Homo sapiens: one gene and its partners. The protein of the gene in region 1 purifies or fractionates together with the protein of each later gene. This does not show direct contact. Each region holds a gene or a part of one and is shown in the gene's direction. Other genes may lie near its edges.

Region 1 (5,185 bases):
AAGATCAGGTGAGCAAAATGAGTAGCACATCAGTAATTCAGTAGACAAAACTTTTGTCTGAAAAATTGCTGTATTGAAACAGAGCCCTAAAATACCAAAAGACCAGGTAATTTTAACATTTGTGGAATCACAAATGTAAATTCATAAGAAGCTCTAATTAAAAAAAAAAAGTCTGAAGTATATGAGCATAACAACTTAGGAGTGTGTCTACATACTTAACTTTTGAAGTTTTTTGGCAACTTTATATACTTTTTTTAAATTTACAAGTCTACTTAAAGACTTCTTATACCCCAAATGATTAAGTTAATTTTAGAGGTCACCTTTCTCACAGCAGTGTCACTTGAAATTTAGTAGGGAAGGATATTGCAGTATTTTTCAGTTTCCTTAGCACAGCACCACAGAAAGCAGCTTATTCCTTTTGAGTGGCAGACACTCGACGGTGCCTGCCCAACTTTCCTCCTGAGTGGCAAGCAGATGAGTCTCAGTAATTCATACTGAACCAAAATGCCACATACACTAGGGGCAGTCAGAAACTGGCTGAGAAATCCCCCGCCTCATTCGCCCCTCTGCTCCCAGGAACTAGAGTCCAGTTAAAGCCCCTATGCGAAAGGCCGAATTCCACCCCAGGGTTTGTTATAACAGTGGCCAGTCTGAACCCCATTTGCTCGTGCTCAAAACTTGATTCCCACTTGAAAGCCTTCCGGGCGCGCTGCCTCGTTGCCCCGCCCCTTTGGCAGGAGAGAGGCAGTGGGCGAGGCCGGGCTGGGGCCCCGCCTCCCACTCACCTGCCGGTGCCTGAAATTATGTGCGGCCCCGCGGGCTGCTTTCCGAGGTCAGAGTGCCCTGCTGCTGTCTCAGAGGCATCTGTTCTGCAAATCTTAGGAAGAAAAATGTCCCTAGTAGCAAACGGGTGTCTTCTGTGCATAAATAAGTACAACACAATTCTCCGAAAGTTCGGGTAAAAAGAGATGCGGTAGCAGCTGCCCTGTGTGAAGCTGTCTACCCCGCATCTCTCAGGCGCTAAGCTCAGTTTTTGTTTTTGTTTTTGTTTTTTTAAAGAAAAGATGTATAATTGCAGGAATTTTTTTTTATTTTTTTATTTTCCATCATTCTATATATGTGATGGTGAAAGATATGCCTGGAAAAGTTTTGTTTTGAAAAGTTTATTTTCTGCTTCGTCTTCAGTTGGCAAAAGCTCTCAATTCTTTAGCTTCCAGTTTCTTTTCTCTCTTTTTCTTTGTTAGGTAATTAAAGGTATGTAAACAAATTATCTCATGTAGCAGGGGATTTTCATGTTGAGAGGAATCTTCCGTGTGAGTTGTTTGGTCACACAAATAACCCTTTCTCAATTTTAGGAGTTTGGATTGTCAAATGTAGGTTTTTCTCAAAGGGGGCATATAACTACATATTGACTGCCAAGAACTATGACTGTAGCACTAATCAGCACACATAGAGCCACACAATTATTTAATTTCTAACTCTCTGTGGTCCCTAGAAAAATTCCGTTGATGTGCTTAGGTTAAAGTTCTGAAGATACCCGTTGTACCCTTACTTGAAAGTTTCTAATCTTAAGTTTTATGAAATGCAATAATATGTATCAGCTAGCAATATTTCTGTGATCACCAACAACTCTCAGTTTGATCTTAAAGTCTGAATAATAAAACAAATCCCAGCAGTAATACATTTCTTAAACCTCACAGTGCATGATATATCTTTTCATTCTGATCCTGTGTTTGCAAAAATATACACATGTATATCATAGTTCCTCACTTTTTATTCATTTGTTTTCCTATTACCTGTAGTAAATATATTAGTTAGTACATGGAATTTATAGCATCAGCTACCCCCAGGAACAGCACCTGACAGGCGGGGGATTTTTTTTCAAGTTGTTCTACATTTGCATAAATTATTTCTATTATTATTCATGTATGTTATTTATTTCTGAATCACACTAGTCCTGTGAAAGTACAACTGAAGGCAGAAAGTGTTAGGATTTTGCATCTAATGTTCATTATCATGGTATTGATGGACCTAAGAAAATAAAAATTAGACTAAGCCCCCAAATAAGCTGCATGCATTTGTAACATGATTAGTAGATTTGAATATATAGATGTAGTATTTTGGGTATCTAGGTGTTTTATCATTATGTAAAGGAATTAAAGTAAAGGACTTTGTAGTTGTTTTTATTAAATATGCATATAGTAGAGTGCAAAAATATAGCAAAAATAAAAACTAAAGGTAGAAAAGCATTTTAGATATGCCTTAATTTAGAAACTGTGCCAGGTGGCCCTCGGAATAGATGCCAGGCAGAGACCAGTGCCTGGGTGGTGCCTCCTCTTGTCTGCCCTCATGAAGAAGCTTCCCTCACGTGATGTAGTGCCCTCGTAGGTGTCATGTGGAGTAGTGGGAACAGGCAGTACTGTTGAGAGGAGAGCAGTGTGAGAGTTTTTCTGTAGAAGCAGAACTGTCAGCTTGTGCCTTGAGGCTTCCAGAACGTGTCAGATGGAGAAGTCCAAGTTTCCATGCTTCAGGCAACTTAGCTGTGTACAGAAGCAATCCAGTGTGGTAATAAAAAGCAAGGATTGCCTGTATAATTTATTATAAAATAAAAGGGATTTTAACAACCAACAATTCCCAACACCTCAAAAGCTTGTTGCATTTTTTGGTATTTGAGGTTTTTATCTGAAGGTTAAAGGGCAAGTGTTTGGTATAGAAGAGCAGTATGTGTTAAGAAAAGAAAAATATTGGTTCACGTAGAGTGCAAATTAGAACTAGAAAGTTTTATACGATTATCATTTTGAGATGTGTTAAAGTAGGTTTTCACTGTAAAATGTATTAGTGTTTCTGCATTGCCATAGGGCCTGGTTAAAACTTTCTCTTAGGTTTCAGGAAGACTGTCACATACAGTAAGCTTTTTTCCTTCTGACTTATAATAGAAAATGTTTTGAAAGTAAAAAAAAAAAATCTAATTTGGAAATTTGACTTGTTAGTTTCTGTGTTTGAAATCATGGTTCTAGAAATGTAGAAATTGTGTATATCAGATACTCATCTAGGCTGTGTGAACCAGCCCAAGATGACCAACATCCCCACACCTCTACATCTCTGTCCCCTGTATCTCTTCCTTTCTACCACTAAAGTGTTCCCTGCTACCATCCTGGCTTGTCCACATGGTGCTCTCCATCTTCCTCCACATCATGGACCACAGGTGTGCCTGTCTAGGCCTGGCCACCACTCCCAACTTGACCTAGCCACATTCATCTAGAGATGGTTCCTGATGCTGGGCACAGACTGTGCTCATGGCACCCATTAGAAATGCCTCTAGCATCTTTGTATGCATCTTGATTTTTAAACCAAGTCATTGTACAGAGCATTCAGTTTTGGCTGTGGTACCAAGAGAAAAACTAATCAAGAATATAAACCACATTCCAGGCTGCTGTTTTCTCTCCATCTACAGGCCACACTTTTACTGTATTTCTTCATACTTGAAATTCATTCTGCTATTTTCATATCAGGGTACAGACTTATAAGGGTGCATGTTCCTTAAAGGTGCATAATTATTCTTATTCCGTTTGCTTATATTGCTACAGAATGCTCTGTTTTGGTGCTTTGAGTTCTGCAGACCCAAGAAGCAGTGTGGAAATTCACTGCCTGGGACACAGTCTTATAAGAATGTTGGCAGGTGACTTTGTATCAGATGTTGCTTCTCTTTTCTCTGTACACAGATTGAGAGTTACCACAGTGGCCTGTCGGGTCCACCCTGTGGGTGCAGCACAGCTCTCTGAAAGCAAGAACCTTCCTACCTATTCTAACGTTTTTGCCCTCTAAGAAAAATGGCCTCAGGTATGGTATAGACATAGCAAGAGGGGAAGGGCTGTCTCACTCTAGCAACCATCCCTCCATTACACACAGAAAGCCCTCTTGAAGCAAAAGAAGAAGAAAGAAAGAAAGCTTATCTCTAAGGCTACTGTCTTCAGAATGCTCTGAGCTGAATGCTCTTGCTCCTTTCCCAAGAGGCAGATGAAAATATAGCCAGTTTATCTATACCCTTCCTATCTGAGGAGGAGAATAGAAAAGTAGGGTAAATATGTAACGTAAAATATGTCATTCAAGGACCACCAAAACTTTAAGTACCCTATCATTAAAAATCTGGTTTTAAAAGTAGCTCAAGTAAGGGATGCTTTGTGACCCAGGGTTTCTGAAGTCAGATAGCCATTCTTACCTGCCCCTTACTCTGACTTATTGGGAAAGGGAGAACTGCAGTGGTGTTTCTGTTGCAGTGGCAAAGGTAACATGTCAGAAAATTCAGAGGGTTGCATACCAATAATCCTTTGGAAACTGGATGTCTTACTGGGTGCTAGAATGAAAATGTAGGTATTTATTGTCAGATGATGAAGTTCATTGTTTTTTTCAAAATTGGTGTTGAAATATCACTGTCCAATGTGTTCACTTATGTGAAAGCTAAATTGAATGAGGCAAAAAGAGCAAATAGTTTGTATATTTGTAATACCTTTTGTATTTCTTACAATAAAAATATTGGTAGCAAATAAAAATAATAAAAACAATAACTTTAAACTGCTTTCTGGAGATGAATTACTCTCCTGGCTATTTTCTTTTTTACTTTAATGTAAAATGAGTATAACTGTAGTGAGTAAAATTCATTAAATTCCAAGTTTTAGCAGAATGTGTTTTTTTTCTTTCTTTTTTTTTTTTTTTTTTTTTTTTTGGTGCTTCTTATTTGCAACCTGGCCATGTGGTAGAAAGAATGTGTTTTAAAGTTTTACTTTAAGAGATTCCTTTTCAGGCTTCTAGTGTTTAAAAAGTAAATAACAGCTAAGTGAGCTTAGAACTCATTCAACAATTGGCCGGGCACGGTGGCTCATGCCTTTAATCCCAGTACTTTGGGAGGCCGAGGCAGGCAGATCACCAGAGGTCAGGAGTTCAAGACCAGGCTGGCCAACGTGGTGAAACCCTGTGTCTACTAAAAATACATGAAAACTAGCCGGGCATGGTGGCACGCGCCTGTAATCCCAGCTACTCAGGAGACTGAGGCAGGAGAATCACTTGAACCTGGGAAGTGGAGGTTGCAGTGACCTAAGATGGCGCCACTGCACTCCTGCCTAAGCAACAGAGCAAGACTCCATCTCAAAAAAAAAAAAGAACTCATTCAACAATCATGCGTTGCTTA
Region 2 (7,032 bases), on another chromosome or scaffold:
CGCTCCCAGCTAATTTTTTGTATTTTTTAGTAGAGACGGGTTTTCGCCATGTTGGCCAGGCTGGTCTCAAACTGCTGACCTCAGGTGATCCACCCACCTCGGCCTGCCAAAGTGCTGGGATTACAGGCATGAGCCACACCGAAAAATATCTTTTAAAAAAATAATTGTGGCCAAAGAAGAAACTCTTGGGTATTGCTTGTGTTTTAATGAAAATATCCTACTGGTCAAATGGCTTTTTATGGCAAAATGAATACCTCAAGGTAGATGTCCGTAAGATTTGTAAACTCCCATTCTGTACATCTACAACACATGGGAGTATCAGATGCATATGATGTAATAAACTATAGTTCATATTTATGAAAAATAAAATTTCATTAAAAAACAGTTGTGGACAGACTCCAGTGTGGAACTATAAGACCATGTAAGCATTTGTTTTCTTTTACAGAGCAATACTTTTTTTTAGCAAAAAGTAATGAAGAGGGTACTAGCACCGATAGATGTAATTGAGATAAATGTCATGCATAGAGCGTAGCCATTACAAAATCAAAGTCCTTTCAGGGAGTCTTCTGCAATTAGGTAGGATAAGTGACTTGATTTCTCTTATTTTGAGACTTTACTTTTGTTTTTTAGCTTTTTTTTTTTTTTTTATTAGTGGGAATGGAGAGTTGATGTCCAGAATTTAAAGAAAAAAAAGAAATAGATGCAAGTATGGAAAATCGTTCCTTTGGGAAAAAAATGCCTTTTGCTGTCTTATCTAGTCTTAGCCAAGGAAATGTGTCCCATATGTTAGTTAATATATTTGAAATATTAGAAGACTCTACTCATATGAAAGACTGCTTTATTAACATGTAAATCTTTGTAAAATTGTAACATTGTAACAAAATCAGATTCATAGCTAGATATTTAAAATATATATAAAACTTAGCTTATGGTAATTTCCTATAACATATTCCATATTAAACTATAGCATACCTTATTCTATTCATATTTACCTCACTGGTTCTTTTTTCTGCTCTATAAAGAGAAAAAAGGGTATGCCTAAAGCAATACTGTATATCTTTTATCAGTTTCTGCTATAACTTAAGGTAAGATTTCTCCTTACTGATATTCTGTTGTACTTGGGTATGAGGCAGTTTGCAGGGCTGAGATACTGTAAATCTGATTTAGGAATTGTTGGTTTATATCTGATGGGTTTTATAAAAATCTAATTATACTTACTAAATTAGAATCTGTGAAAGCAGGACACTTGAATTTGTATTTTTAAGCAGATCTTCCAACTATGTGTTCTTTTGTTTTTTTGTTTGATTTTTGGCGAGGTCAGGAATTAGGAATTACTGCTAACCTGTAGAATAAATATAGTACACAGTGTAAACATAAGACTTCTGCTTTCTTCGAGCAACTTTGGACTATGCTTACAGATTCCTCAGGATATATGAATTTATTCTCCTGCCTATTTGCTTAGGTAAATAAGTTTAAGAAAAACTACTTTAAGATATTTGTTGAATTATTAGAGCAAAGGAAGGAAATAATAGATTTATTACCATTCAAAACATTGCTGAGACATGATAGAGAAAGGAAAAACAGTGTTACAGAAGAATTGAGTAAAAGGGAAAGGAGAGTAAAACTGCAAATTGGGAGACTTGGTCAACTTTTGTATTTTTCGTCTAGGCACATAGTTATTTACTGATTAACAGCTAGTAACTTGTACCCATCATAATGGATGTGTAAGTTTAGAGGAGGTGGAATATATAACAGTCATTTCCCTTTGCACATGTGCCTTAGAGCTAACATTGTTAACAGGTAGTAGTAGGAGGAATGTTCCTACCACCTGTCATTCATATTTTCCCAAAATTGAATATTTTTGTTTGGAATTTTATCATACTTGATTTTTATATGCAGAGAGCAATGAGCAAAATCTGAAAAATCATTCTTATAAATGTAGTTGTCTTTCACTAGTAAAAAATACGTAGTTTAGAATTTTTAAGGAGAATTTATCAAAAATAACCGAAATAAAAAATAATTTGGCATCTTTTCCCTACTATGTGGTTATTCGTTCAGTGAAACCAATACTTACTGAGTTAATGAGAGTAAACAAATAAGCAGTTGTTTATCATGTTCCTGGCACTGATTTTGGTGGTTTTTTGTTTTTTTATAATCAATATTTGTTATATGTGGAGAATATTTTAGTTTTTGGTAGTAGAGAATATTTGAGTTTTAATGGAATTTTATTCTCTCTTAGGTCATGTTTACTGGTGAAAATATTCCTGTTCATCCTCATGTTTATAGCAATGGTCATATCTGTTTATCCATTCTAACAGAAGACTGGTCCCCAGCGCTCTCAGTCCAATCAGTTTGTCTTAGCATTATTAGCATGCTTTCCAGCTGCAAGGAAAAGGTAAGACTTTTCAGAATTATTCCAGATAATATCTCTTCTTTCAGTTAGGTAGATAAATAATTTTAATATGTAATTATTTTTATTTGGAGGAAGGATTTATGCTTTTTATTTGAAAATTATAGGGAATTTCATGTTTAGTAATAAATTGGAAAGTTATTTTGATACCTTTCATTCCAAATAGAAGTTTTACATGTTGAATGGGGTAGAAGCCAGACTTACTGTTTTATATTCTTTTAAACAGGAAATGTACGGTATTTTCTTAAAGCTGATTTTATTCCCAAAAGCATGCACAGGTAAAAGTATACAAGAAATTCTTTTTGTAGATTTCACAGTGGAAAGCCTCAGAAAAGTGCATCATAGCTTCCTTCTCCCCTCTGCCAGCTCCCACCCGATCAACCTGTTTCAGGGAATTTTTCAGGAACCAGAGCTTCCCTGTCCTAATGATTAGGTTGAAGGAGGAAGACCAGTTTACCAGTCGAATTTTCAGGGCGTTTCTTCCTGTTCTCCTTTATTAATCCACAGATTCTATGTCTGATGGAAGTGGGGGGAAAAAAAACAAAAAGAAAAAAAATCACTTAATTAAACTTAAAATGTAGGCTGGGCACGGTGGCTTACACCTGTAATCCCAGCACTTTAGAAGGCCTAGGCAGGTGAATCACCTGCGGTCAGGAGTTCGAGACCAGCTGGCCAACATGGTGAAACCCTGTCTCTACTAAAAATACAAAAATTAACTGGGTGTGATGGTATATGCCTGTAATCCCAGCTACTCAGGAGACTGAGGTAGGAGAATTGCTTGAACCCAGGAGGTTGCAGTGAGCCAAGATCATGCCACTACACTACAGCCTGGGTGACAGAGCGAGACTCCATCTCAAGAAAATAATAATGAAATAAATTTAAAATATACATATAAATTTAGGATACCCTTTAAATGTATCTGAATCCTCTGTACACTTCTGACACTCTTGTCATTCCTGCTTAAGGGTTAGTATAGCATAACATTTATGTATTTCTACATTTTAAAACCCCTCTTAAATCCCTATGAGGGTTTTCCTTTTGCATTCTGTTTAAAGGAGAAACAGCTTTGCCCTAGAGGTTAGGGAGTTATTTGTGTTTTACAGTTTTCTTTCCTTTTCTCCAAATTGAACTGATTGTCATTTTTATTAAATTAGTATTTGGAGAACTTTTAAGATAATAGTTCATTTTTTAATGATAGGTTATTTAGAATCTGAAGCACTCTAAGCCACAGCATGTGAAATAATAGGTTAAATTGGTTTTGTTTTGTTTTTTTACTCATTTGTTGCTTATTGCTGTTATATTTTCTCCTCTCACCCACCCCCAACACACACACACGTTTTAAACTTTTATGTGTAGGGCAAAGCAGTTTGTGGGTACAAGGCCTTCTATGTTCCTGTTACGCTTAAAGACTATAGAAAGGTGAGACGGTAACAACAGTATTTAATAAGAAAGTTATTAAGAGATTAATGTCAGCGATATCTGTACATAGTCTTGCATGTGCCTCATGATTATTAGATTTTATTTACATTTAAATATAATGATTTATTATTAAAAACTAGAGAATGACTATATTCTGTGTACTTCCTTCATCTTCCTCTAACCCTCACCATTCCCCTTACATTCTAGTTGTCTGCTACTAGTGTTTCTTGTACACTTAGTATAAGACTAATCATTCCATTTAAAGCACTAATAAACTATGTTTTTACTGTAATAGTTGTATAATATTTAACCAAGATGATAATACAGAAATCAAGATTTCCATGAAATACGATAAAATTCAAAAAACATTTACTAGGTACCTAGTATGTGCTACTTTTACTGTGCTAAGTGATAAGTTACAAAGATGAAGAGGAAATTTGCCTTGGCATTGAGACGATCTGGCATTAGAGAGATCTAAGCTCCAAAGAAACCTTAAAAAGTGTTTTAGGCCAGGTGCAGTGGCTCACGCCTGTAATCCTACTACTTTGGGAGGCCGAGAAGGGTGGAGCACTTGAGGCCAGGAGTTCAAGAGCAGCCTAGGCAAAATGGCTAAACCCTGTTTACTAAAAATAGAAAAATTAGCTGGGCGTGGTGGCGCATGCCTGTAGTCCCAGCTACTTGGGAGGTTGATGCACAAGACTTGCTTAAACCCAGAGGCTGAAGTTGCAGTAAGCTGATATCACGCCACTGCACTCCAACCTGGGTAATAGAGCAAGACTCTGTCTCAAAAAAGAAAAAAGAAAAGTATTTTAAATACCCATCTACACGTTTTATTATTATTAAAACGGGTAAATTTTATTCCGTAGTGGACATGGTTCTATGGGCTTTACTTTGTTAATTCTACTACTATTAAATATTTTACTTTAGGTGTTTGGGACTTTAGTCATAATTCTTCTATTCCAATTTCCTTTTACACAGTCAGGAGTGGTTCCATAAACTGAAGGTATTTAAATCCAGTATGTCATTAGATTGTAGTGGATTAAAGATAATTTCTGATATTGAGATCACAGGACTTTCAGTAAATTCCACTTTATTTGCATGCCTTTGTAATATATTTACATTGTTCAAACTTTTCAGTTTGTATCCCATTCCTAAAACAATTTCGTAAGACTTCTTTTGTATAGTTTCTTTTCCAAGAACTGTATCTCCCTGATCATTTGTCAGGGAGATAAATGATTTAAGCAAATAGAATTGAGTATTTCTTTTTTCTAAATATGTATTTTTTGAAGACTTTTCTGATGATTCTTGGGTTCTAATCAACATATACATAAAATGAGTTTGTGAAAGTATCTGCTCTAGTAGTACCAATTCCATATGAACATAGATTTAACTTTGTAGAATCATCCCTTCCTTGAAGTAGTCAGGCATCTAATTTCATAATATTCATTTTTTAGGAATTTTCTCAAATTGTGTCCACAGATTGACTTGGAATACCTAAATGTCTTGACTGTCTTATGCTCTAATGTTTCTTTTTGTTAAATGAAATTACTAATATTAACACATAAGAGCATTGTGAGGCTCAACTAGACTGATAGTTACATATATGAGTTTTAGAAGTGCCAAATGGACTAACTGTTTTCCTTCCTGCTATCACAGAGTCCTACTCACGATTGCTTTCTGGTTAGACTTTCCTTAAATGATGTCATACCAAATTCACTTATTTTCATTAGCCTCAGGTAGAGGAGAGGATTCCCTTAATCTCTCATTTTCATTAGCTTAGCTAAGCAGATTTAAGTCTGAAAATAAATCCTGCATATACACTATACAATATTTAATGATAGGAAAATAATCAAGTTATTGGAATGATTCCGAAAGGCATAAAGGAGACTAAAGGATAAGGATATCTATCATAGTATCTATAAACTTTAATATAGCTTTAATATAAATTTGATGTTTCCAAGTCTTTGTAGAGGGTAACATTTTCTTTTGTCTAGGCAGTATGCAACAAATTTCAGGAAAAGTCTCTTCCATAATATATCTTCAGTGTTGTTGGCATCACTTTATCTGCGGTAGCTCCCTTGCGGAGCTGCCATATATTTCTCATATATTGTTCTAGTCAGGGCATATGTTCAGCAGAAAGGCCAATTATAGTAGAAATGCCAATATATATTTTTCCCATTTTTTCTCTTAAATATTGTTTAGAAACTGAATCTTCTGGTCTATCTTTGATGGTATTCTATTACAGTAAAAACAGTTCTTTGTGGAGGTTTGTACATTGCTATACTTCTCCCAACAAATCTAGTTTAGTAGACTTTTCTGTTTTGTTTTGAGACGAAGTCTGGTTCTGTCACGCAGGCTGGAGTGCAGTGGCGCAATCTCGGCTCATTGCAAGCTCCGCCTCCCAGTCTCACGCCATTCTCCTGCCTCAGCCTCCTGAGTTAGCTGGGACTACAGGCGCCCGCCAACACGCCCGGCTAATTTTTTTTTTTTTTTTTTTTGTATTTTTAGCAGACAGGGTTTCACCGTGTTAGCCAGGATGGTCTCGATCTCCTGGCCTCGTGATCCACCCGCCTCGGCCTCCCAAAGTGCTGGGATTACAGGCGTGAGCCACCGCGCCTGGCCCTTTGTTTTATTATTTATTTATTTTTTGAGATGGAGTCTCACTCTGTCACCCAAGCTGGAGTGCAGTGGCACCATCTCGGCTCACTGCAACCTCCACCTTCTGGGTTCAAGCAATTCTCCTGCTTCAGCCTTCCAAGTACCTGAGATTACAGATGCCCACCACTGCGCCCGGCTATGTTTAAATTATTATGTGAATTTGACTTTTCTCATCAGTCCTTTTTCATTCCCTTTATAATTTATTTAATTTTTTGTTTGTTTGTTTTGAGACGAGAGTCTCGCTCTGTTGTCAGGCTGGAGTGCAATGTCACAATCTTGGCTCACTGCAACCTCTGCCTCCCGGGTTCAATCAATTCTCCTGCCTCAGCCTCCCAAGTAGCTGGGATTACAGGCACGCACCACCATGCCCAGCTAATTTTTTTGTATTTTTAGTAGAGACTGGGTTTCACCATGTTGGCCAGGCTAGAACCTAACACAGACCACACTCAAACACGCTTATTATTCCTTTTTTAAATTTAGGTGTTAAGCATACACATTTCCTGGAATACATTTATAGTTTTTATTCTTTTAGATATACTATTCAT
Region 3 (7,081 bases), on another chromosome or scaffold:
ATGGATATGAGGAACTTGTCGGGAACTGGAGCAAAGGTGACTCTTGTTATATTTTAGCAAACAGACTGGCAGCATTTTGCCCATCCTAGAGATTTGTGGAATTTTGAACTTGAGAGAGATGATTTAGGGTGTCTGGCCGAAGAAATTTCTAACCAGCAAAGCATTCAAGAGGTGACTTGGGTGCTGTTAAAAGCATTCAGTTTTATAAGGGAAGCAGAACATAAATGTTTGAAAAATTTGCAGCCTGACGTGATAGAAAAGAAAAACCCATTTTCTGAGGAAATCTGCATAACTAAAGAGAAGCTGAATGTTAATACCCAAGACAATGGGGAAAATGTCTCCAGGGCATGTCAGAGGCCTTCATGGCAGCCCCTCCCATCACAGGCCCAGAGGTCTAGGAGAAAATGGCTTCGTGGGCCAGGCCCAAGGTCCCCATGTGTGCTGTGTGCCACCTAGGGAGTTGGTGCCCTGCATCCCAGCCACTCCAGCCATGGCTGAAAGTGGCCAACACAGAGCTTGGGCTGTGATTTCAGAGGTGCAAGCCCCAAGCCTTGGCAGCTTCCACATGGTGTTGAGCCTGTGAGTGCACAGAAGTCAGGAATTGGGCTTTGGGAACCTCCGCCTAGATTTCAGAAGATGTATGGAAACATCTGGATGCCCAGGCAGAAGTTTGTTGCAGGGGCAGGGCACTCATGGAGAATCTCTGCTAGGGCAGTGTGGAAGAGAAATGTGGGGTTGGAGCCCCCACACAGAATCCCTACTGGGCCACTGCCTCATGGAGCTGTGAGAAGAGGGCCATGGTCCTCCGGATCCCAGAATGGTAGCTCCATTGACAGCTTGCACCATTTACCTGGAAAAGCCACAAACAGTCAATGCCAGCCTGGAAAGGGAGATAGGAGGGAGGCTGTACCCTTCAAAGCCACAGGGGCAGAGATGCCCAAGACCATGGGGACCCACCTCTTGGATCAGTGTGACCTGGATGTGAGACAGGGAGTCAAAGGGGATCATCTTGGAGTTTTAAGATTCGACTGCCCTGCTGGATTTCGGACTTGCATGGGGCCTGTAGCCCCTTTGTTTTGGCCAATTTCTCCCATTTGGCATGGTTGTATTTACCCAATGCCTGTACCACCATTGTATCTATGAAGTAACTAACTTGCTTTTGATTTTACAGGCTCATAGGTGGAAGGAACTTGCTTGTCTCGGATGAGACTTTGGACTGTGGACTTCTGAGTTAATGCTGAAATGAGTTGAGACTTTGGGGGACTGTGGGGAAGGCATGACTGTATTTTGAAATGTGAGGACATGAGATTTGGGAGGGGCTGGGGGCGGAATGATATGGTTTGGCACTGTGTCCCTACCCAAATCTCATCTTGAATTGCAACTCCCACAATTTCCACATATGGTAGGAGGAACCCGGTGGGAGGTGATTGAATTATGGGGGTGGGTCTTTCCTGTGCTGTTCTCATGATAGTGAATGAGTCTCATGAGATCTGATGGTTTTAAAAAAATGGGAGTTTGCCTGCACAAGCTCTCTGTTTGCCTGCTGTCATCCATGTAAGATGTCACTTGCTCCTCCTTGCCTTCCGCCATGATTGTGAGGCTTCCCCAGCCACGTGGAACTGTGAGTTCTCCATTAAACTTCTTTCCTTTGTAAATTGCCCAGTCTTGGGTTTGTCTTTATCAGCAGCGTGAAAATGGACTAACACAGCTGTTCAAAAGATAACATACATGACTACATAACTGAAAAAGTGCTTATTCTACTAAAAAATCTATTTTGTAAGTGCTTATTCTCTTAATAGTAAAGAGTCTGTGAGGGAAGAAATTTGAAATCCCAAGTTCTTTTACTTTATAACTAGAAGTAAGTCATTTAAATCTTCCTGAACCTCAATTTCTCCAGGGTAAAATGGAGCTAATACTAACTACAGGCAGTATATGGCAGAGGTGACCTGAATGGAAAGAAATACTTCTGAGAATGAATGACAATCAAGCATAGTAAGATCACCCATGCCTAGAAATGACAAAACCCAAAATATTATCAAAGCAAGATGAAGGATTCTAATATTATCCAAATCTATCTAAAATTACCCATATTTAATCAAGGTAAACTGAATATGGTTCCAGAAAAGCAGGAATACAGCTTGCGTGAATGGAAAGATCAATGGAATTAGATTTAAGATCTACACTTATTAGTGGTGTAGTGAGGGCAAACTCCCAAAGCCTCAGTTTCTGTATTGTGGGTGTTTTGCACATTTATCTGACAAAGATTTATGGACTATTTACTAGGGCCAGGGCTTTACTAGGTAAGTGCCATACAAAAATGAAGGCATTGCTCTTGCCTTCAATTTCAATACAATGTAACAAATATTATAACAATAAGGGCTACTGAATATTTTCTAAGTACTAGGTACTATTATAAATACTTTTTACTCATTAAATCTTTACTCCCTTTCACTATCTAAAACATAGGTATTATCACAGAAAAGAGGCATAGAGAAGTTAACTATCTTGCCCAGCACCAAACAGTTATCAGAGGCTGGAGCTGGGATGTATCTTTTTTTTTTTTTTTTTTTTTGAGAAGGAGTCTCGCAATGTTGCCCAGGCTGGAGTGCAGTGGCGCGATTTCGGCCCACTGCAACTTCTGCCTCCCGGGTTCAAATGATTCTCCTGCCTCAGCCTCCCGAGTAGCTGGGAGTACAGGCGTGCGCCACCACGCCTGGCTAATTTTTGTATTTTCAGTAGAGATGAGGTTTCACCATGTTGGCCAGGCTGGTCTCGAACTCCCGACTTCAGGTGATCCACCCGCCTTGGCCTCCCAAAGTGCTGGGATTATAGGCTTGAGCCACCGCGCCCGGCAAAGGAGCTGGGAAATATTTTGACAGAGGGCAAGAACTTGCTAATCTGTGCAAGTGAGGGGTAGTGGTGGAGGCTTTCCACACTCAAGGGGCAGTTTTAGTTCACCCATTCGCAAACGTACTTAAAAATTACCTCTTAGAGTTGTGCTGAATAAATGAAACAGTATATTTAAGTCAGTATTGTGCCTGGGACATGTAAGCTCTTAATTAATGTTATTAATTTCATTTTATTCCTTTAAGTTGGATCACTGGCGAACAACGTGAGAATGTTTTCATGCCTTTGGCTACACATTAAAGCGACCTCTCCAAATGGGTTGTCGCATTTTACATTGCTACCAACAATGTAACAGCCTTCTAGTTGCTTTATGCTCCGATATACGAAAGAGCCCCACCATTTGATTCTGTTTTTCAGTTTCTGACAGCCTCACCTACTTTCTCTTTCAAGTTCATCTGCCACATTTTTACTTATTTTATTTTTTTGAGACGGAGTCTCGCTTTCTCACCCAGGCTGGAGGCTGGGGTGCAGTGGCGTGATCTCGGCTCACTGCGATCTCCGCCTCCCGGGTTCAAGCGATTCTCCTGCCTCAGCTTCCCGAGTAGCTGGGACTACAGGCGCGCGACACCACGCCGGCTAATTTTGTATTTTTAGTAGAGACGGGGGTTTCACCATATTGGCCAGGCTGGTCTCGAACTCCTGACCTCGTGATCCGCCCGCTTCGGGCTCCCAAAGTGCTGGGATTACAGGCGTGAACCACCGCGCCCGGCCCATCTGCCCCATTTTACATCACCACTGCCGTCACAAACAAAGTTCTCGTAAGAACCGCCAAGCGGCGCGTGGGCGGCCGCCCCATCCCACTATAATTGCGGCCTCGCAGCCTGACCCGGGGCGCCAACGCTCAATCCGGTTCTCGCGGGAAGATACACGGTTTTTAAGAAAGAACTTCTAACCCCACTCCACCGCCCAACGGTCACGTGACGCGCCTGCGTCCTCGCCTCAAGGTTTTTTCTGGTCGCATATTGGCTGTTAACTCGGCTACGGGGTGTAGCGAGGTGCATTCCGGAAGTAGGTCCTTTGACTTTTGCTTCCTCTACGGAGGCAAGTAACAACCCGGCGGTCGACGCTTAGCGGAAGTTCGTCAAGTCGCAGTTGCCCCCGCACAGCGGATGTGGGTCGCCTCTTAGGTGACGCTGGGAAGTGCCTGCAGCCTTCGCCGCTGCCTTCTGGTTGAAGCACTATGGAGGGAGAGAGGAAGAACAACAACAAACGGTGGTATTTCACTCGAGAACAGCTGGAAAATAGCCCATCCCGTCGTTTTGGCGTGGACCCAGATAAAGAACTTTCTTATCGCCAGCAGGCGGCCAATCTGCTTCAGGACATGGGGCAGCGTCTTAACGTGTATCCTTGTGGCCTAGGCCTTCGGCCTTGGAGTTGGTCCCGCCATGCTCTGGCGTCCGGGTCTCAGGCTCTGTGGGGGGGACGAAAGTGGGGAAGAAGGTGGGCAGAAGCTGGATGTCTAGTTGGGAGAGCCCACGATGGGGCGGGCTGAAACTCAGTTAGCGCTAGGGAAGCGAGGCAGAGTTGATTTCCCGCTCGCTCACCCGTGCCGCCAGCCTTGCTGGGAATTCGTATCCTTCCCGGCTTTGTGTTTTAACCAGCCCTTCCAACTCTGTCTTCATTGTGTTCTGATCTGCTCTGGTGACGTTAAGATTCTCATTTTCCGCTGTGCCCTAGGGGTCTAGGTCTGGCAGAGGTTTCTCTGTTGACGGCTGCCTCCCAAACCTAGTGTGTAAATTTCGAGAAATTCAGTACCTGAAAGTGTTATAAAGGGTGGACTAGAATTAATGCCTCAGCCTTGGTCCAAAATCCATTCCTCATCTACTAGCTGTTTAAGTGACCTCTCAAATTTTTGGCCGTCTTGTCTATAAAATGGGATAATACCTCTTGTGTTTGATTCTGTGTCCAGCACAGTGCTTTGCATTCAGATGCTCAGTTAGTAGCTACTGTTTTATAGAATTTCAGAGGAAAGATGTTAGTTTACGTTTGTAGGGGATACCCACGAATCTAATGTTTTAAATAGTTTACAAAATACCGGGTCCTTAACTTACTTAGAGTGATGATATGTATTTCATTTTCAAAAATGAGGTAACGGCTGGATGCGGTGGCTCACGCCTGTAATCTCTGCACTTTGGGAGGCCGAGGCGGGTGGATCACCTGAGGTCAGGAGTTCGAGACCAGCCTGGCCAACATGATTAAACCCCTGTCTCTACTAAAAATACAAAAAATTACCCCGGCGTAGTGGCGGGCAGCTGTAATCCCAGCTAGTCAGGAGGCCGACGCAGGAAAATCGCTTGAACCCGGGAGGCGGAGGTTGCAGTTAGCCGAGATGGCGCCACTGCACTCCAGCTTGGGCAACAATAGTGAAACTCCGTCTCAGAAAAAAAAAATTAAAAAAAAAATGAGGTAACCTCTCCCACATATTTTTGTTTGTTAGGAAATACACTTATTTTATGGTGGAGAAAACTAGTATAGTTTTAAATTTCTTTCCACTCTGCGTGTGAAAATTTTCTTGGGTGCAGCTTCTATTTAAATGTGTGGCTGACAGTAATGTGTGTATCTTAAGGGTGTGTTCATCTCAAAATGGGTGTCTGTTTTATCGCCAGTTTGTTTCCTGCTGATGTCCAGGTTTGTTTCCTAAGCATCCTGTCAGTATGGAGTTAAATCTTTTTGTTCGAAATTCTATTTCAGTGCATCCTTAAAATGCTTTCCTTTTTGTATGTGTGTTGTCATTAAGGTTGTCAGCCAGGCGCGGTGGCTCGCGCCTGTAATACCAGCACTTTCGGAGGCCAAGGCAGGTCGATCAGTTGAGGCCAGGAGTTCAAGACCAGCCTGGCCAACATGGTGAAACCATGTCTCTACTAAAAATACAAAAAGTAGCCAGGTCTGTTGGTGGGCGCCTGTAATCTCAGCTACTGGGGAAGCTGAGGCAGGAGAATCGCTTGAATTTGGGAGGTAGAGGTTTCAGTGGGCCAAGATGGTGCCACCGCACTCCAGTGTGGGCGACAGAGTGTGAGCCACCGCGCCTGGCCGCCTTATATAGTTTTTAAAAAAATCTGTCTAGATTCATACATCCTGAGATGTTTGTTTATTCATTCAGTACATTTATATTAAATATTTGTTATGTGTAAGGCATTGTGCTAAGTGTCAGTTGGCGATTAATAATTTGGTGAAAGAAAACAGACATATTCTTTGATTTGGAGAGATAAGTATGATTTTCATTTAGTAGTATCTACTTGCTTGGCCATTTCATCCTTTTGGGAGGGAGATAGAGGTTATCTTTTCCAGAATTATACCTGCCTGTTTTTGGATCTTAACTTGAACACTTCAGCTCACAATTGACTATCAACACTGCTATAGTATACATGCATCGATTCTACATGATTCAGTCCTTCACACAGTTCCCTGGAAATGTAAGTATAATTTTTTTATATGATATAATCCTTTTGTGATTGATTCCACCTACCTATTCCATTTGTGGTTGGTCTTTGCTACTGAACTGTAACTTGAACTTTAGAATTTAGGGTTGATCACTTCCATTATGTGCTGTGTTGCTGTTCTGAATCCAGCTTTTCAGTTTTCCTGTTAAGTGTCTACTTGTCTAGTGGATTTAGTATATCCATGTCGATTCTCTAAAGAAGTAGATTAGGCCGGGTGCAGTGGCTCACAACTGTAATCCCAGCACTTTGAGAGACTGAGATGGGAGGATCACTTGAGCCCAGGAGTTCAAAACCAGCCTGGGCAACATAATGAGACCTCATTTCTACAAAATATCAAAAACAAAAACAAAAAGCAAGTAGCTGGGTGTTGTGGTATGCATCTGTGGTCTCAGCTACTCCAGCAGCTGGCAAGAGGATTGCTTGAACTCAGGGAGTTGAGGATGCAGTGAGCCAAGATTGAGTCGCTTCACTCCAGCCTGGGCATCAGAGTGAGACCCTGTCTTCAAAAAAAACCCCAAAAAACAGATTATCAGACATCTAAAGTCAACATTTTGGGGTTGGAGGAGTAACATTAAAGGGGAAATCATGTGGAATTTAGGTATAGCTTTCTTTTTCTTGCTGGGGTAGGGAGACAGGCAGGGTCTTGCCCTGTTGTCCATGGTGGAATGCAGTGATTTGATTATGGCTCATTGCAGCCTTAACCTTCTGGGCTCAAGCAGTCCTCCTGCCGTAGC
Region 4 (7,032 bases), about 87 Mb from region 1:
CCTGAGTAGCTGGGATCACAGGTGCACACCACCACGCTCACCTAATTTTTGTATTTTTAGTAGAGACGGTGTTTCACCGTGTTGGCCAGGCTGGTCCTGAGCTCCTGACCTCAGGTGATCTGCTTGCCTCGGCCTCTCTAAGTGCTGGAATTACAGATGTGAGCCACCACACCCAGCTAGTTTTTTTTTTTTTTTTTTTTTTTTTTGAGACAGAGTTTCACTTTGTTGCCCAGGCTGGAGTGCAATGGCACGATCTCAGCTCATCTCAACCTCTGCCTCCTGGGTTTAAGGGATTCTCCTGCCTCAGCCTCCTGAGTGGCTAGGATTGATTACAGGCATGCGCCACCACGCCTGGCTAATTTTGTTTTTTCGTAGAGACAGGGTTTCTCCATGTTGGCCAGGCTGGTCTCGAACTCCTGACCTTAGGTGATCTGCCTGCCTCGGCCTCTCAAAGTGCTGGGATTACAGGCATGAGCCACTGTGCCCAGCTAGGTTTTTTTTTTTTTTTTTTTACCTGTTTAGTCATGTCTTAAATAAACAGTAAGTGAGAACTTAACGACCTTCAGCCTTAGTGCCAACTCGTCTGTCTGCATGGTCTCATACAGTGCAAAGAGGATGGGGTTCGGGAGTCAGTCTGATCTGCCTTGTTCACTGGTTCCTCAGCCTCTCTGAGATCAGTGTTTTCATCTGTAAAATGAGGATGAACACTTACCTTATATTATTTTTTGAGCATTGAAGGAGATTGTACATGTAGATAAGTAGCACACGCTCATCGAGAAAAGTTTCCATTTTTCCTATCTTTCCCTCTGTCATCTGCCCAACTTCTTTTTTTTTTTTTTTTTTTTTGAGACGGAGTTTCGCTCTTGTTGCCAAGGCTGGAATGCAATGGTTGATCTCGGCTCACCGCAACTTCTGCCTCCCAGGTTCAAGCTATTTTCCTGCCTCAGCCTCCTGAGTAGCTGGGATTACAGGCGCCTGCCACCACTGCCCGGCTAATTTTGTATTTTTAGTAGAGATGGTGTTGCTCCATGTTGGTCAGGCTGGTCTCAAACTCCTGACCTCAGGTGATCCACTGGCCTCAGCCTCCCAAAGTGCTGGGATTACAGGCATGAACAACCGCGCCCGGCCATCCTCTGCCTAACTTCTTTCTTTATGCCTGGGTCTTGGCTGTCTTCTCAAAGGAAGGAAGCCATCCTAGTCCCACTTCCTTGCGTATTGATTTATTTGTACTATTGGACACATCAGAAAACTGTTTCTCCTCTGTCTCACGGCATCTTTCTGCTGATCCTCCAGCTTCCAGGATTCAGCTCCAAATTCACTTCCAGAAAGCCTTTCTTGATTAACCCAACTCAGCATAACTATTCTTTTGGTTTTTATCTGCTTACATTTAAATATTTCATGTTTCATTAATTAGAATATACGGTTTTGTCATTATGAGACAGGTTTACCATTAATTTAAAAATATTTTCCTTTTTAATTTTTAGAATCTGATGTTCCAGCAGAAATCCAGGTGTTAAAAGAACCCCTACAACAGCCAACCTTCCCTTTTGCAGTTGCAAACCAACTCTTGCTGGTTTCTTTGCTGGAGCACTTGAGCCACGTGCATGAACCAAACCCACTTCGTTCAAGACAGGTGTTTAAGCGTAAGTAAGAATAAATGAATCTTGCTAAATAAAGCTTGTAAAGGCTGGGCTCCGTGGTTCATGCCTGTAATCCCAGCACTTTGGGAGGCTGAGGTGGGCGGATCACCCGAGGTCCGGAGATCGAGATCGGTTTGGCTAACATGACGAAACCCCCTCTTTACTCAAAATATGGAAATTAGCCGGGTGTTGTGGCAGGCACCTGTAACCCCAGCTACTCGGGAGGCTGAGGCGGAGAATCAGTTGAACTGGGGAGGTGGAGGTTGCAGTGAGCCGAGATAGCGCCACTGCACTCCAGCCTGGGTGAAAGAGTGAGACTGTCTCAAAAATAAATAAATAAAGCTTGTAAAAATACTGTGTTGCTGTTCTCACTTATTCATGGGAGGTAAAAATTAAAACAATTGAACTAATGGAGATAGAGTAGAATGATGGTTCCCAGAGGCTGGGAGGATAGTGGAGGATGGTTAATGGGTACAAAAATATAGTTAGAATAAATTGGATCTAGTATTTGATAGCACAGCAGAGTGACTACAGTCAACAATAATTTATTGTACATTTAAAAAATAATAAAAAAGATGGCCAGGTGCAGTGGCTCATGCCTGTAATCCCAGCACTTTGGGAGGCCAAGGTGGGTGAATCACTTGAGGTCAGGAGTTTGAGACCAGCCTGACCAACATGGTGAAATCCCATCTCTATTAAAAAAAAAATGCAAAACTACCCAGGCGTAATGGCACATGGCTGTAATCTCAGCTACTTGGGAGGCTGAGGTAGGAGAATTGCTTGAACCCGGGTGGCGGAGGTTGCAGTGAGCCGAGATCACGCCACTGCACTCCAGCCTGGGCAACAAGAGCTAAAGTCCATCTCAAAAAAAAAAAAAAAAAGAATGGGCTGGGCGCGGTGGCTCACGCCTGTAATCCCAGCACTTTGGGAGACTGAGGCAGGTGGATCATGAGGTCAAGAGATCGAGACCATCCTGGCTAACATGGTGAAACCCTGTCTCTACTAAAAATACAAAAATTAGCTGGGCATGGTGGCGGGCACCTGTAATCCCAGCTGTAATTTGGGAGGCTGAGGCTGGAAAATCATTTGAACCTGGGAGGCGGAGGTTGCAGTGAGCTGAGATCGCGCCATTGCACACCAGCCTGGCGACAGAGCAAGACTCAGTCTCAACAAAATAAAAATAACGAAAAGAATATAATTGGATTGTTTGTAACACAAAGAAGGGATAAATGCTTTAGATGATGGATACCCCATTTATCCTGATGTGATTATTACACATCACATGTCTGTATCAAAATATCTCATGTACCCCCATAAATATATACATCTACCATATACTCACAAAAATTAAAAATACAAAATAAAAATATGTTGTTTAATGCTGTGAGTCTGGAAAGCGTCTGGTATACAAAAATTGGAGTGAAATAAATATTAATGATTTCCCTACTTCAATTCAGCTTACATTTTTCTTTGAGTAATTCCTTACAAATATAACTGTGGATCCCATAATTGCATAAAATTGAATAAATGAAATATAGTTCTTTTGCATCTATACTATGATAATGCTCACAATTTTTTTTTTTCTCGAGATGGAGTCTCACTCTGTTGCCCAGGCTGGAGTGCATTGGCGCGATTTCCGCTCACTGCAATCTCCGCCCCCCGGGTTCAAGTGATTCTCCTGCCTCACCCTCCCGAGTAGCTGGGGTAGGCACGTGCCACCATGCCCGGGTAATTTTTGTATTTTTAATAGAGACGGGGTTTCACCATGTTGTTCAGGCTGGTCTCGAACTCCTGACCTGGTGATCCACCCGCCTCGGCCTTCAGTGTGCTTTGATCACTCCTGTGAGTAACCAGTGTGCTCCAGTCTGGGTGACATAGTAAGACTCTGCCTCTAGAGAAAAAAAAAAAAAAGAATAGTTCCAGCCAGAGATTCTGAGGTTCTTTTTTTTTTTTTTTTTTTTTTTACCAAAACAGTCTCAAACTTATAGATACTTTTATGTGGTCTTAAAACTGAATGCGTTTTTAGTTAAAGATACATTATCATTTTGATAAACTTGATGGGACATGAAAAATGGTACAAATATCTGTACATTGTACACCTACTGCTTCTTGAATAAAGCAAATAATACACTCTGCATTCCAAGCAGTGGCATATGTGGTGGGAGGTGGGGTGAACAGAAGGAAGTGTATTCCTTAGGTTCTGAAGCATTGGTGACTGGGAATTATTGTATTAGTCTCATCAAATAGAGAAGCAGATTAGAAAAATACAGTAATCTTGTACATGATTAAAGCAATCCTGTGAATTTTACTGATTTTAAGATAATTTTGAATTCCTTATATACAGCCTCTTTAGATGACTTTTTTTTTTTTTTTTTTTGATAAGGAGTCTTGCTCTGTCGCCCAGGCTGGAGTGCGGTAGTGCGATCTCGGCTCACTGCAACCTCCACCTTCTGGGTTCAAGCGATTCTCTTGCCTCAGCCTCCCAAGTAGCTGGGACTACAGGCACCCACCACCACGCCCGGCTGATTTTTTGTATTTTTAGTAGAGACGGAGTTTCACTGTGTTAGCCAGGATGATCTCGATCTCGTGACCTCATGATCCACTGGCCTTGGCCTCCCAAAGTGCTGGGATTACAGGTGTGAGCCACCATGCCCAGTCTAGATGACTGAAGTTTAAAACAAGGTTATTTAAATAAATGTTTTTGATGTAATCAGTGAGTTGATAATCTAAATGGAGAGTTTTCTATTTCTTTTTTCTTTTTTTTTAGCAACAAATGTGGCTTTCATAACTGTAGAGTTTTTGATGCAGAAAGAATATCCTTGGTGGGGCACGGTGGCTCACGCCTGTAATCCTAGCACTTTGGGAGGCTGAGGTGGGCGGGTCACGAGGTCAGGTGTTCGAGACCAGCCTGGCCAACATGGTGAAACCCCATCTCTACTAAAAATACAAAAATTAGCCAGGTATGTTGGCGGGTGCCTGTAATCCCAGCTACTTGGGAGGGTGAGGCATGAGAATCCCTAGAATCCAGGAGGCGGAGGTTGCAGTGATCTGAGATCGCTCCACTGCCCTCCAATTTGGGCAACAGGGTGAGACTCTGTCTCAAAAAAAAATTAGCCAGGCGTGGTGGTGTGCACCTGTAATCCCAGCTACTCAGGCGACTGAGGCAGGAAAATCGCATGAACCCTGGAGATGGAGGTTGCAGTGAGCCGAGATCGTGCCATTGCACTCCAGCCTGGGCGACAGAGTGAGAGTCTGTCTCAAAAAAAAAAAAAAAAGAAAGAAAAAAAAATGTCCTCATTGGTATCTGTATTTGTTGAATGAGTAGGAGCCAAGGCACCTTTGTGGAAACTTACTTTTTCTAAGGAGCTTGATATTTGGTTTACACACGTGTACCATGGGCTCTTTGTATGTTGGTTAAAGGTATTTCGTGACGATGAATGGTCACTTTTGTTGTAAGTTCTCATCATATGTTTGCCCTCCTGCTCTTATTCTTCTCTTACTGCCTAACAGCAAAGGGTAATGTGTGGAATGTCAGAAGAGTTTGTTTACTCTTTTTTTTGTTTGCCCTTTTTTTAGAAATGGCTTAGTACTTTACTGACTAGTCTTGGTAAACAAGTGACTGTACAGGGTAAGAGAAGTAATTATAGGCCGGGTGCAGTGGCTCATGCCTGTAATCCCAGCACTTAGGGAGGCCAAGGTGGGTGGATCACGAGGTCAGGAGATCGAGACCATCCTGGCTAACACAGTGAAACCCCTTCTCTACTAAATATACAAAAAAATTAGCTGGGCCTGGTGGCAGGCGCCTATAGTCGCAGCTACTCAGGAGGCTGAGGCAGGAGAATGGCATGAACCCGGGAGGCAGAGCTTGCAGTGAGCCGAGATCGCGCCAGTGCACTCTAGCCTGCGTGACAGAGTGAGACTCCATCTCAAAAAAAAAAAAAAAAAAGAGAAGTAATTATAGTTGTGCTTTTCATGAATGAGTGTACTAGTTGTTCCTTCTCTTTTAGAGAATCATTCCCCAAGTTTCTTCGCTTTTTAAAAAAATTTATCTAAGGGCTGGGCCTGGTGGCTCATGCCTGTAATCCTAGCACTTTGGGAGGTGGAGTTGGGCAGATCACTTGAGGCCAGGAGTTCGAGACCAGCCTGGCCAATGTGGCGAAACCCCGTCTTTACTAAAAATAGAAAAATTAGCTGGGCATGGTGGCACACGCCTGTAATCCCAGCTACTTGGGAGGTTGAGGCAGAAGAATCACTTGAACCCGGGAGGTGGAGGTTACAGTGAGCCAAGATAGTTGTCACTGCACTCTCTGTCTCAAAAAAAAATTTCTTTTACGTTATTCTAGAGAACATTCTCCAAGTTTAACGTGTTTATAAATATAGTATTTTTCCTATTGAGGTTTTTGTATATATTGCTATTATTACACGTTATTCTCTGTGTACACTTTAAAATTGCCATTTTATTAAAGATGTTTCTAATAATAGTTTTTCATATTCTTTTTATAGTACTTTGCCAGACGTTTATCAAAATGGGGCTGCTGTCTTCTTTCACTTGTAGTGACGAGTTTAGCTCATTGAGACTACATCACAACAGAGCTATTACTCACTTAATGAGGTCTGCTAAAGAGAGAGTTCGTCAGGTAAGCCCTAAAAAATATACTTTGGGTATGACAAAAATATACTTTAATTTTAAGATAATTATATTTTAAAGCACTGTGAAATTCTGATTATAAAACAAGTTTTTAAAAGTATAAACTCTAGGCCAGGCATGGTGGTGTGGCTCATGCCTTAATCCCAGCACTTTGGGAGGCTGAGATGGATCATTTGAGGCCAGGAGTTCAAGGCTGCAGTGAGCCATGGTTGTGCCACTGCACTCCAGCCTGAGCAGCAGAGTGAGAACCTGCCTGAAAAAAAAAAAAAAAAAGAGAGGAGAGGCAAAGGAGAGGCCACAGATGGACTGGGATCTTGAGACAATTTCAATTTATTTTTGTTTTGTTTTGTTTCGTTTTGAGACAGAGTCTCGCACTGTCATCTGGGCTGGAGTGCAGTGGCGCAATCTTGGCTCATTGCAACCTCTGCCTCCCAGATTCAAGGGATTCTCCTGCCTTAGCCTCCCAAGTAGCTGGGACCACAGGCACCTGCCACCACACCCAACTAATTTTTTGTATTTTCAGTAGAGACAGAGTTTCTTCATGTTGGCCAGGCTGGTCTCGAACTCCTGACCTCGTGATGTGCCTGCCTTGGCCTCCCAAGTGCTGGGATTACAGGCGTGAGCCACCGCGCCCTACCTAATTTATGGTTTTTAGTAAGATGGGAGGTGGTACAGGATTTTGATTAGAGGAGTGACACAATCTGACTTACATTTTAGTGGGGTCACACTGGCTGCTGTGTTGCG

The links.
Region 2: the proteins of CDK6 (region 1) and UBE2W purify together in Homo sapiens (affinity purification with mass spectrometry; 3 studies listed by BioGRID and IntAct, with this or other methods). This does not show direct contact.
Region 3: the proteins of CDK6 (region 1) and CCNT1 purify together in Homo sapiens (affinity purification with mass spectrometry; 3 studies listed by BioGRID and IntAct, with this or other methods). This does not show direct contact.
Region 4: the proteins of CDK6 (region 1) and EIF2AK1 purify together in Homo sapiens (affinity purification with mass spectrometry; 3 studies listed by BioGRID and IntAct, with this or other methods). This does not show direct contact.

Annotation. Positions count from the first base shown.
Region 1 is NC_000007.14:92,604,417-92,609,601, reverse strand, and holds the end of CDK6 (cyclin-dependent kinase 6), read left to right. Parts: 3' UTR 1-4,681; downstream 4,682-5,185. UniProt on the Homo sapiens protein: Serine/threonine-protein kinase involved in the control of the cell cycle and differentiation; promotes G1/S transition. Phosphorylates pRB/RB1 and NPM1.
Region 2 is NC_000008.11:73,805,837-73,812,868, reverse strand, and holds part of UBE2W (ubiquitin-conjugating enzyme E2 W), read left to right. Parts: intron 1-2,239; coding exon 2,240-2,395; intron 2,396-7,032. UniProt on the Homo sapiens protein: Accepts ubiquitin from the E1 complex and catalyzes its covalent attachment to other proteins.
Region 3 is NC_000012.12:48,713,682-48,720,762, reverse strand, and holds the start of CCNT1 (cyclin-T1), read left to right. Parts: upstream 1-4,055; 5' UTR 4,056-4,087; coding exon 4,088-4,248; exon of another isoform or gene 4,249-4,478; intron 4,479-6,238; coding exon 6,239-6,320; intron 6,321-7,081. UniProt on the Homo sapiens protein: Regulatory subunit of the cyclin-dependent kinase pair (CDK9/cyclin-T1) complex, also called positive transcription elongation factor B (P-TEFb), which facilitates the transition from abortive to productive elongation by phosphorylating the CTD (C-terminal domain) of the large subunit of RNA polymerase II (RNA Pol II).
Region 4 is NC_000007.14:6,049,157-6,056,188, reverse strand, and holds part of EIF2AK1 (eukaryotic translation initiation factor 2-alpha kinase 1), read left to right. Parts: intron 1-1,484; coding exon 1,485-1,643; intron 1,644-6,143; coding exon 6,144-6,277; intron 6,278-7,032. UniProt on the Homo sapiens protein: Metabolic-stress sensing protein kinase that phosphorylates the alpha subunit of eukaryotic translation initiation factor 2 (EIF2S1/eIF-2-alpha) in response to various stress conditions.